Regions from separate parts of the Homo sapiens genome. Here region 1 is linked to region 2. Evidence: fine-mapped expression QTL. A gene starts in region 2. The other region holds a variant in brackets. All regions are shown on one strand. Distances are between the middles of the regions. Region 1 overlaps ERC1 (ELKS/RAB6-interacting/CAST family member 1). Region 2 holds the start of ERC1 (ELKS/RAB6-interacting/CAST family member 1).

Evidence for each region. PIP is the estimated chance that this variant, and not a neighbour inherited with it, causes the effect.
Region 1: its variant is the best candidate, but not a certain one, in a credible set for the expression of ERC1 in lymphoblastoid cells (GEUVADIS, PIP 0.67).

The regions. Positions count from the first base shown.
Region 1 is chr12:1,228,020-1,232,409 of GRCh38, forward strand. All of the region lies in intron 12 of ERC1 (ELKS/RAB6-interacting/CAST family member 1), which reads left to right. Among named protein-coding and RNA genes, the nearest start is that of ERC1, 240 kb to the left of the region's middle. The variant A/G (reference allele first, on the strand shown) is at 2,201.
Region 2 is chr12:989,417-993,806 of GRCh38, forward strand. ERC1 (ELKS/RAB6-interacting/CAST family member 1) reads left to right here and starts at 1,807. Exons shown (of 19, transcript NM_178040.4): 1 at 1,807-1,906. It also overlaps a transcript of RAD52 not described here. RefSeq lists enhancers at 638-1,200, 1,762-2,323 and silencers at 1,022-1,071, 1,482-1,591, 1,612-2,121, 2,327-2,621.

The DNA.
Region 1 (4,390 bases), 240 kb after region 2:
TTTCATGCTGGTACCATAGTGTTTAGATTTGTAACATAGTTTGAAATCCGAAAGTGTGATGACTCCAGCTTTGTTCTTCTTACTCACAATTGGCTATTCACGGTCTTTTATGGTTCCATACGAAGTTTAGGATTCTTTTTTCTGTTTTTGTGAAACAATGCCATTGGTATTTTGATAGAGGCTGCATTGAATCCATAGATTGCTTTGAGTAGTATGGACATTTTAACAACATTAATTGTTTCAATTCATGAACAGATTATCTTTCCATTTGTATGTATCTTTTTCAATTCCTTTGTCTTCTAGTTTTTAGTGTACAAATCTTTCAGCCAGTTGTATACAAAAATATACAACTAATTTTTGTATATTTTATATTCTGCAACTTTACTGAACTTACTATAATAGTTTTTAACAATTTTTTTATGCAGGCTTTAGGGTTTTCTATGTATGAGGTCATGTCATTTGCAAATAGAGACAGTTTATCTTGTATTTTCCAGTTTGTGTGCCATTTAGTTCTTTTTCTTGCCTAATTGACTAGGACTTCGAATATTCTGTTGAAGAGGTGGTGAGAGTGGACTCCCTTTTCTTGTTCCTGATGTTAGGGGAAAAGCTTTCAACTTTTCACCGTTAGATTTATCGGCTGTGGGCTAATCATATATGGCCTTTATTGTTGTGTTGAGGTACATTCCTTCTTTACCTAATTTATTGAGAGTCTTTATCATGAAAGGATATTTAATTTTGTCAAATACTTTTTCAGATGATTGTGTGATTTTTATCGTTCATTCTGTTAGTGTGGTGTATGACGTTTATTAATTTGTGTATTTTGAACTATCCTTGCAAATAACCACTTGATTATAGTGAATGGTCCTTTTAATGTGCTGTTGAATTCAGTTTCCTAGTATTTTGTTGAAAGTTTTGCGTCTAGTTTCATCAGTACTATTGACCTGTAATTTTCTTTTCTTATAGTATCCTTATCTGGCCTTGGTATAAGGGCAATACTGGCCTTTTAAAATGAGTTTGGAAGTGTTCCTGCCTCTTTAATTCTTTGGATGAATTTGAGAAGAATTGGTACTAGCTTGTGCTTAAGTGTTTGGTGGAAATCAGCTATGAAGCCATCTGGTCCTCAGCTTTTCTTTGTTGGGAGGTTTTTGACTACTGCTTTAGTCTTCTTTCTTGTTATTGGTCTGTTCAGCTATTAATATGTCTTCACTTGTCCAGGTACAGTGTGTAATCCCAGCATTTTGGGAGGCCAAGGTGGGAGGATCACTTGAGACCAGGAGTTGGAGACCAAACTGGGTAACATAGCAAGACTGGTCTCTACAAAAAAATAAAAAATTAACTAGTTGCAGCGGTGCATGCCTGTGGTTGCAGCAACTTGAGAGGCTGAGGCAGGAGGATCCTTTGACCCCAGAATTTTGATGAACTATGATGGTGTCACTGTGCCCCAGCCTGGACAACAAAGCAAGAATGAATCTCTTTTAAAAAAAAAGTCTTCAATTTTGTTGTTGTTGTTGTTTTAATGATTCAGTCTTTAGGGTATATGTTTCTAGAAATTTATTCATTTCTTCTAGGTTATCCAAGTTGTTGGTGTATTAATTTTCATAATATTCTCCTTGTACTCCTGTGGATCAGTTGTAATGTCTTCTCTTTCATGTCTGATTTTCTTTATTTGAATTCTCTTTCTCAGTTATTCTAGCTCAAAGCTTGTCAATTTTGATTATCTTTTGACAAACAACTATTATGTTGATTTTTTAGAATTTTCTTTCTGGTCTCCCATTTATTTCTTTATTATTTCCTTACTTTAGCTAACTTTGGGCTTAGGTTGTTCTTTTTTCTATTTTTTTGAGGTGTAAGGTTAAGTTGTTTGAGATCTTTATTTTCTTAAAGTTTATTGCCATAAACTTGTCTCTTTGAACTGCTTTGCTGTATTCTGTAGGTTTTAGAATGCTGTGTTTTCATTTTATTTGCCTGAAGATACTTTTTGACTCTTTTTTTTTTTTTTTTTTTTGAGTTGGAGTCTCACTGTGTCACCCAGGCTAGAGTGCAATGGCACAATCTTGGCTCACTGCAACCACCGCCTCCCGGGTTCAAGCGATTCTCCTGCCTCAGCCTCCTGAGTAGCTGGGATTACAGGCATGTGCCACCACGCCTGGCTAATTCTTAATACAGATGGGGTTTCACCATGTTGGCCAGGCTAGTCTCA[A/G]ACCCCTGACCTCAAGTGATCCGCCCACCTCAGTCTCCCAAAGTGCTGGGATTAAAGGCGTGAGCCACCGCGCTTGGCCTGACTTTTTGACTCTCCTTTTGATTTCTTCTTTGACCCATTGGTTTTGTCAGGAGTATATTGTTTACTTTCCATGTATTTGTGAATTTTTAAATTTCCCTCCTATTATTGATTTCTAATTTTATACCATTGTAGTTGAAAAACATGCTTGATATGATTTTAACATAGTTGGATTTAACACTTAATTTTGTGGCCTAACATATGTTATATTCTGGGGAATGCTCTATGTGTACTTGAGAAGGATATGTTTTCTGCTGCTGTTGGATGGATGTTTCATATAGTCTGTTATTTGCTCTATACTCTTATTCAGGTCTAATGTTTTCTTATTGACAGACTGTTTGACCTATCCATTGTTAAAAGTGGGGTAGTAAAGTCCTCTCTTGTTATTGTATTGCTGTCTGTTTCTCCCTTCAGTTCTGTTAGTATTTGCTTTATATTTTTAGGTGCTCTAAGGTTGGATGCATATATATTAATACATTTACAATTGTAATATTCTCTTGATGAATTGACCCATTTATTGTTGTATAATAACCTTGTCTCTTGTGACTGAAAGTCTATTGTGTCTGATATAAGTAAGCCCATTTCTATTCTTTTTTGGTTACCATTTCCATGGAATATCTTTTTCTATCCTTTTGTTTTCAGCCTGTGTGTGTCCTTACAGCTAAAGTGAGTCTCTTGTAGCCAACATATTGTTGGATACTTAAAAAAGTCTGTTAGCCACTCTGTATCTTTTGATTGGAGAATTTAATCCATTTAAAGTAATTATTGATAGTTAAGGCCATTTTGTTGTTCTCTGTTTTGTAGGTCCTTTGTTCCTTTCTCTCTTGCTGCCTTCCTTTCTGATTTGATTTTTTTTTTTGTAATTGTATGCTTAATTCCTTTCTATCTTTTATATGTTACTGGAGGTTAGTTTTCTTTGTGGTTACTATGAGGGTTACATAAGATATCTTAGGCTGTTTTAAGGTTGTAATAACTAAACTTTAATTACCTACAAAAATTCTGCAATTTTATGTCTCCCTCCTTCACAGTTTATGCTATTGATGTCACACTTTACATCTTTTTATATTTGTGTACCCATTGACAAATTATTGTAGCTATAGTTATTTTTATACTTTTGTCTTTTAACTTTTATGCTAGTTAAAATTGATTTATGTACCACGATTACAGCATTGCAGTATTCTGAATTTGACTGTATATTTATTTTTACCAGTGAGTTTTATACTTTAATGTGTTTTCATGTTTTTATTTAGTGTCCTTTAGTTTCAACTCAGCTCCCTTTAGCATTTCTTATAAGGCAGGTCTAGTGCGATGAACTCTGTCAGCTTTTGTTTGTCTGGAAATGTCTTTATCTCATCTTTATTTCTGAAGAACAACTTTTTTTTTTTTTCCCTCTGATGGCACCTCTGACTCCTTGATATTGTATTATTTGTTTCTCAGAGAAGTAAAGCAATTTTTTTTTTGAGACGGAGTCTCGCTCTGTTGCCCAGGCAGGAGTGCAGTGGCATGTTCTTGGCTCACTGCAATCTCTGCCTCCCGGGTTCTAGCGATTCTCCTGCCTCCGCCTCCCAAGTAGCTGGGACTACAGGCGCCCGCCACCACGCCCAGCTAATTTTTGTATTTTTAGTAGAGATGGGGTTTCACTGTGTTAGCCAGGATAGTCTTCGATCTCCTGACCTCATGATCCACCCACCTCAGCCTCCTAAAGTGCTGGGATTACAGGCATGAACCACTGTGCCCAGCAACAACTTTCTTATGTATAATATTCTTGGCTGGCAGTTTTTGTCTATTAGCACTTTGACTATATCATCTCATTCCCTCCTGATCTGCAAGGTTTCTGCTGAGAAATCCACTGATTGCCTTGGTGGTGGTGGTAATGGTGGTGTGTATGTGTGTTGCGGGTTTCCTTGTATTATAGGTTGCTTTTCTCCTGCTGCTTTCAAAATTTCCTCTTTGCCTTTGATTTTTCAGAATTCAATTATAATGTGTTTCAGTGTAATTTTCTTTGACTTGAGCTTTTGAGCTTCATGAATCTAGATGTCTGTATTTCTTTCAAGATTTGAGAGATTCTCAGGCAACAGACATTCATTTACGTGAGCTAGGTATTTCTTCTAT
Region 2 (4,390 bases):
TCATCATTTTATGGGGTCTCAGGAAGAAGAGACAGTAAATACATGTGCTCGGTTAGCTAGCTTTAATCAAAAATCCTAAACGTAGGTTTTAAAAAAGATAACTGGAGCAGGGCAGGAAATAATATTTTTTGCCAGTGTGGTGGCAAAAAATAAAAAACAAAAATCTGAATCTGTGTTAGGACAGTATTTCCGTGTATAACATAGCGCTTAGCAACTTAATTCTCCAGATCCACATATTTTAAGGACATGATGTATCTCAGACACCTACTTCAAACCTCACTTTACAGTTAAGTAAGACCACAAGTAGAATGAATTGCCTGAGGCCACACAAGTAGACAGTGGGAGAATGAGAACAGAAATATCTATTGACTCCTAGTTGAATTTTCTCTTACCTTACCACACTGCTAGGGAGTAACAAGATGGGCAGATCACGAGTCAGATGAGAAAGGTCATGAAAAATAGTCAAAGGATGACTTTTCCTGGGTAAATAGCCGGATGTCCAAGAAATGAAAGGCTGGTCTGGCAGCAGCACATCGTCTAACAGTTGGTAGTCATATGTGGGAAGTACTGAAGGGGGAGATGACAGCAGGCCCAGAAACTGCAATGATCCAAGTGCATGTCGATCCTGGGAGGGAACAGTTAAGAGTCCGGGCAGGATGAAACAGTAGAAACTGGTGAGTGAATGAATGTGAAGGCTGAGGAGCGACTGCAATTTGTTAATGGGATTATGAGGCAGTATAAAGTGGTTAATTACGGTGGCGGAGGTAAGCAGGAGTAAAATGATGGCTTTTAACTCCTCTCAAGGACACCGAAAATTATTTTAATAAACACTGGAAGGCTGGGAATAAATATAATTCACACCATTCTTACTTTCTTGGTTTAGAGATAGCTTATCTACATCCTTAAATTAATGGCTGTAGCTACCCTCTGCATGGCTCCAAAAAAAAAACAAAAAACAAAAAACAAAACCAAAGCCGGCTGCGAGTCTGCACGAGAAAATCGGGTTGCACCAGGCCCCAGCCGCCCGCCGATTCGCTTAGCTGTCGGAGGCTAAATAAACAGCTCCCGAAGCAGCGTTTGGCACAGCGCAGGGTCGGAACGTGGACACTAATTTCCGCCCACGCTCCCCGCGTCCTGGCGGGATCACCACAGACACGACGTCCATTGCTGGGGTCCTCGGCGATGCCCGTGTGCGCAGCCCCGCGAGTCTCAGGTCAGAAGACCACTAATTTCGCGGCCGCGTTCCACGAAGCTAAGGGGCAAAAAACCAGCTTTCTTGGGACAAAGCGTCCCCCCAGCAGCCAGGGTCGATCCCGGCGCTGCTCCCGCGGCGCTTGGCTGCCCCGGGCGTAACGGGCCACGAGAAGTAGGGGGTGGGGCGCCGCTTAGGTTTGGGAAGACACGAAGCGGCTCCTCGGGCTTCCAGCGTCCACTTCCTACGGCAAGCAGGAGGAGACAAGCGCCACCCTGCGCTCGCGGAGCCGACCCCGGCTCTCCCCTCCCGTGGCCGCAGGGGTCGTGTGTGTGTGTGTGTGAGTGTGTGTGTGTGTGCAGGGACGCTCCGCGCCCATCACTCTGTTTCGGTGCTAATCGACCGCCGTGGCGCCGATTTCCCCCGCTTCCCAGTTCCTCACCCGCGTGCCCCGGAAGGCGCCCGGAGGCCCCCGGGCCGCCGCGTCACGCTCCCGGGAGGCTGAGGGAAAGGGAGGCAGCCGAGCCGGGAGCCCGGGGAGGCGCGCTGCGCCCCGCGGCGGGGCTGGGGGCGGGGCTAGGTGTCTCGCGCAGGGGGCGGGGCGCGGTGACGTCGCGGGCGCCTGGGCCGTGCTGTGGCGGCGGCGGCGGCGGTAGTGGCGGCGGCGGCGGTGCCTGGGCGGCAGCAGCAGCAGTAGCGGCAGCCCTGAGGACGGTGAGACGGCCGCGGCGGCGGCGACAGCGCGGAAGTCGCGCGGGACCCAGAGCTTCCCCCCTGTCGCTAGTGCTGAGGCTTTCGCCTTTCCTACCCAGCTTCTTGCTCACGGCCCGGGCTGGGCTGGGCAGGGCAACGCGCCCCCGGGGAGGGGCGGAGCTGTAGGTGAGGCTTCGCGACCCCCTCCCCCTCCTCGGCAGCCCGGGGGGTGGGGAGGGGCGGGCCCCACCCAGACCACCGGCGCCCACCCGCGGGCTCCACCCAGCCGGGCTCCGGGATCGGGCGGGAGCCGAGGCGGTAGATGTGGGGATCCTGGGGCGGGAGGTGGGGGAGTGGGGACTGGGGCTCTGGGCACTTGGGGAGCGGAGGGGGGGAGGCTTAGGACTAGTGAAGCCGCGGACGAGGTAGTGGGGAGACGGAGAAATTGGGGAGCCATGAGGTTGGGGTGCGGTCAGGGTGGATCTTTGGGTTAGGTGAGTGATGTAAAATGCTGAAGATGATTCTTTTCTTTTCGATGAAATGGTGAGATAAAAGATGAAGTGTATTTCAAAAGGACGATGAGCTGTGCATGTTGCCTTTGAGGCAGTTGCAGAACCTATTTTATTGCACTAGATCTCACGTTTCTACTTTAGGGTTCGATTCTTTTTCTTCTGGCGGGGTGGGTGGGGGGTCGGAGAGGGAAGAGAATCCCCTTACTTTGGCTCAGGTAAATTGTGAGCGTGGATGTATCTGAAAGTTTTACACCGAAGAAGAGGGAGATCTTCGGTTTAGACAACTTCGTTCCGGCAGCCACCATTTGGGTCGCATTACGCTTAGCTCCTTCAAGGTGGTGTCTTCCAGTTTTTTTTCCCCCCAATGCCTAAAAGATCTCTTTATACCACCCTTTTACAGGCTTTATCCTGGCCCCTTGAGAGAAGGCCCCAAACTCAGGTGGTTGCTTTGGAAGGCACATTGCTGAATAATAGTTGCAGGTGGTTGTGGTTGACTGCTTTGGGTGGATAAAGTGAACAATTGGAATAGTTCTGTTGGAGCTAATTATATGAAAAATGCTTAAATGTTTTAAAGTACAACCGTCTTTTATAGCGTGTTGCTTGCTCAGTACACCTTGACTTTTAGACATTTTGTGTTCAGTGCTAAATTGTTGAAATTTTATTTCTCATTTGCAGTTATGTTTCTTGCAGTCTTTATTAAAACACTTTAAAATGAAATGGAACTCTTTTTTTTTGGTAGGCTCCTCAATTTCTGAGAAATGTTCTTGGAGTCAAGTGCTTTAAAAACATTTTGGGGGCAGGTGTGTCACTTTGTATGGAAATATTAGAGTAAGCAGTGTTCAATGTTCTTCACATCACTCTTTCACAACTTAGCACTGTAAATCAGAATCTTCTTTTCTGGATTCTTGCTCCCTGTTAGATTACAGTATTCTCTGGCCCTACTTATCAGTTAGTGTCATTTAAGCTATTTCTTGTTCAGAAAACAGGTCCCATGATGGACATGTATTATGTAATGGATGGAAGTAGACATGGCTCTCAATAATTCATTTATGGAGGAAGAGAAGCTGTCAGAAAGTGGGATTTAAGCAGTGACTTTCCCAAGGCTTGCCTAGTTTATTTGGGAAAATAGCCAGAGAAGTGCTTTCTTGTAACCCAAAAGAGAAATATACAGATAAGAATTTCAGTAGTTGCAGATCGTTGCTTTTTCTAAGTGCCTACTTAATGAGCAGATTATTGTCTTCCAGCAAATACTTCTACTTTATAGAGAGGTATGGGAAACAGGACATAATAGGTATTAAGTGAGAAAGTGTGTGTTCCAATTTTTAATTATAAATAAAAGATTTAATTAACTGTATTCAGTTAATTCATTTGGTAAAGTGAACAGTTTTGACTTTGGATTAGTTAGAAGGAAAACAAAATTGACATATCTAGTTTTCGCTTTTAAATTATACATAGACTTAATTAATTGGGACAAATGTGAACTAAGATACTGGGTAAAACTTGTGTGTACTCCTAAAATGACATTTGCATGGCTGGTAGTAAGCTGTGATTCTTGTCCTTGTAGGAATGAAATCACATAATTTGGGGAAAGTCTTAAGGTAAAAGTAAGCTATTTCGTTTAGCATTTCTTGTGCCTGAAATTATGCCTACATTTTATTTTTCAAAAAATGTTGCTTGCTAGTCATTACTTGTGATATCCTTGTTGAGTCTACTGAGGTGTTTTTTTTCCTTCATTACCTGTGTCATAGATAAGTATGCCAGTCTGTTAATTCAACATTAATACTGCAAACTTAAAAGTGAAGGTTCTTGGCCGGGCGCCGTGGCTCATGCCTGTAATCCCAGCACTTTGGGAGGCCGAGGCAGGCGGATCATGAGGTCAGGAGTTCGAGACTAGCCTGGCCAACATGGTGAAACCCTGTCTCTACTAAAAATATAAGAATTAGCTGGGCGTGGTGGCACATGCCTGTAATCCCAGCTACTCAGGAGGCTGAGG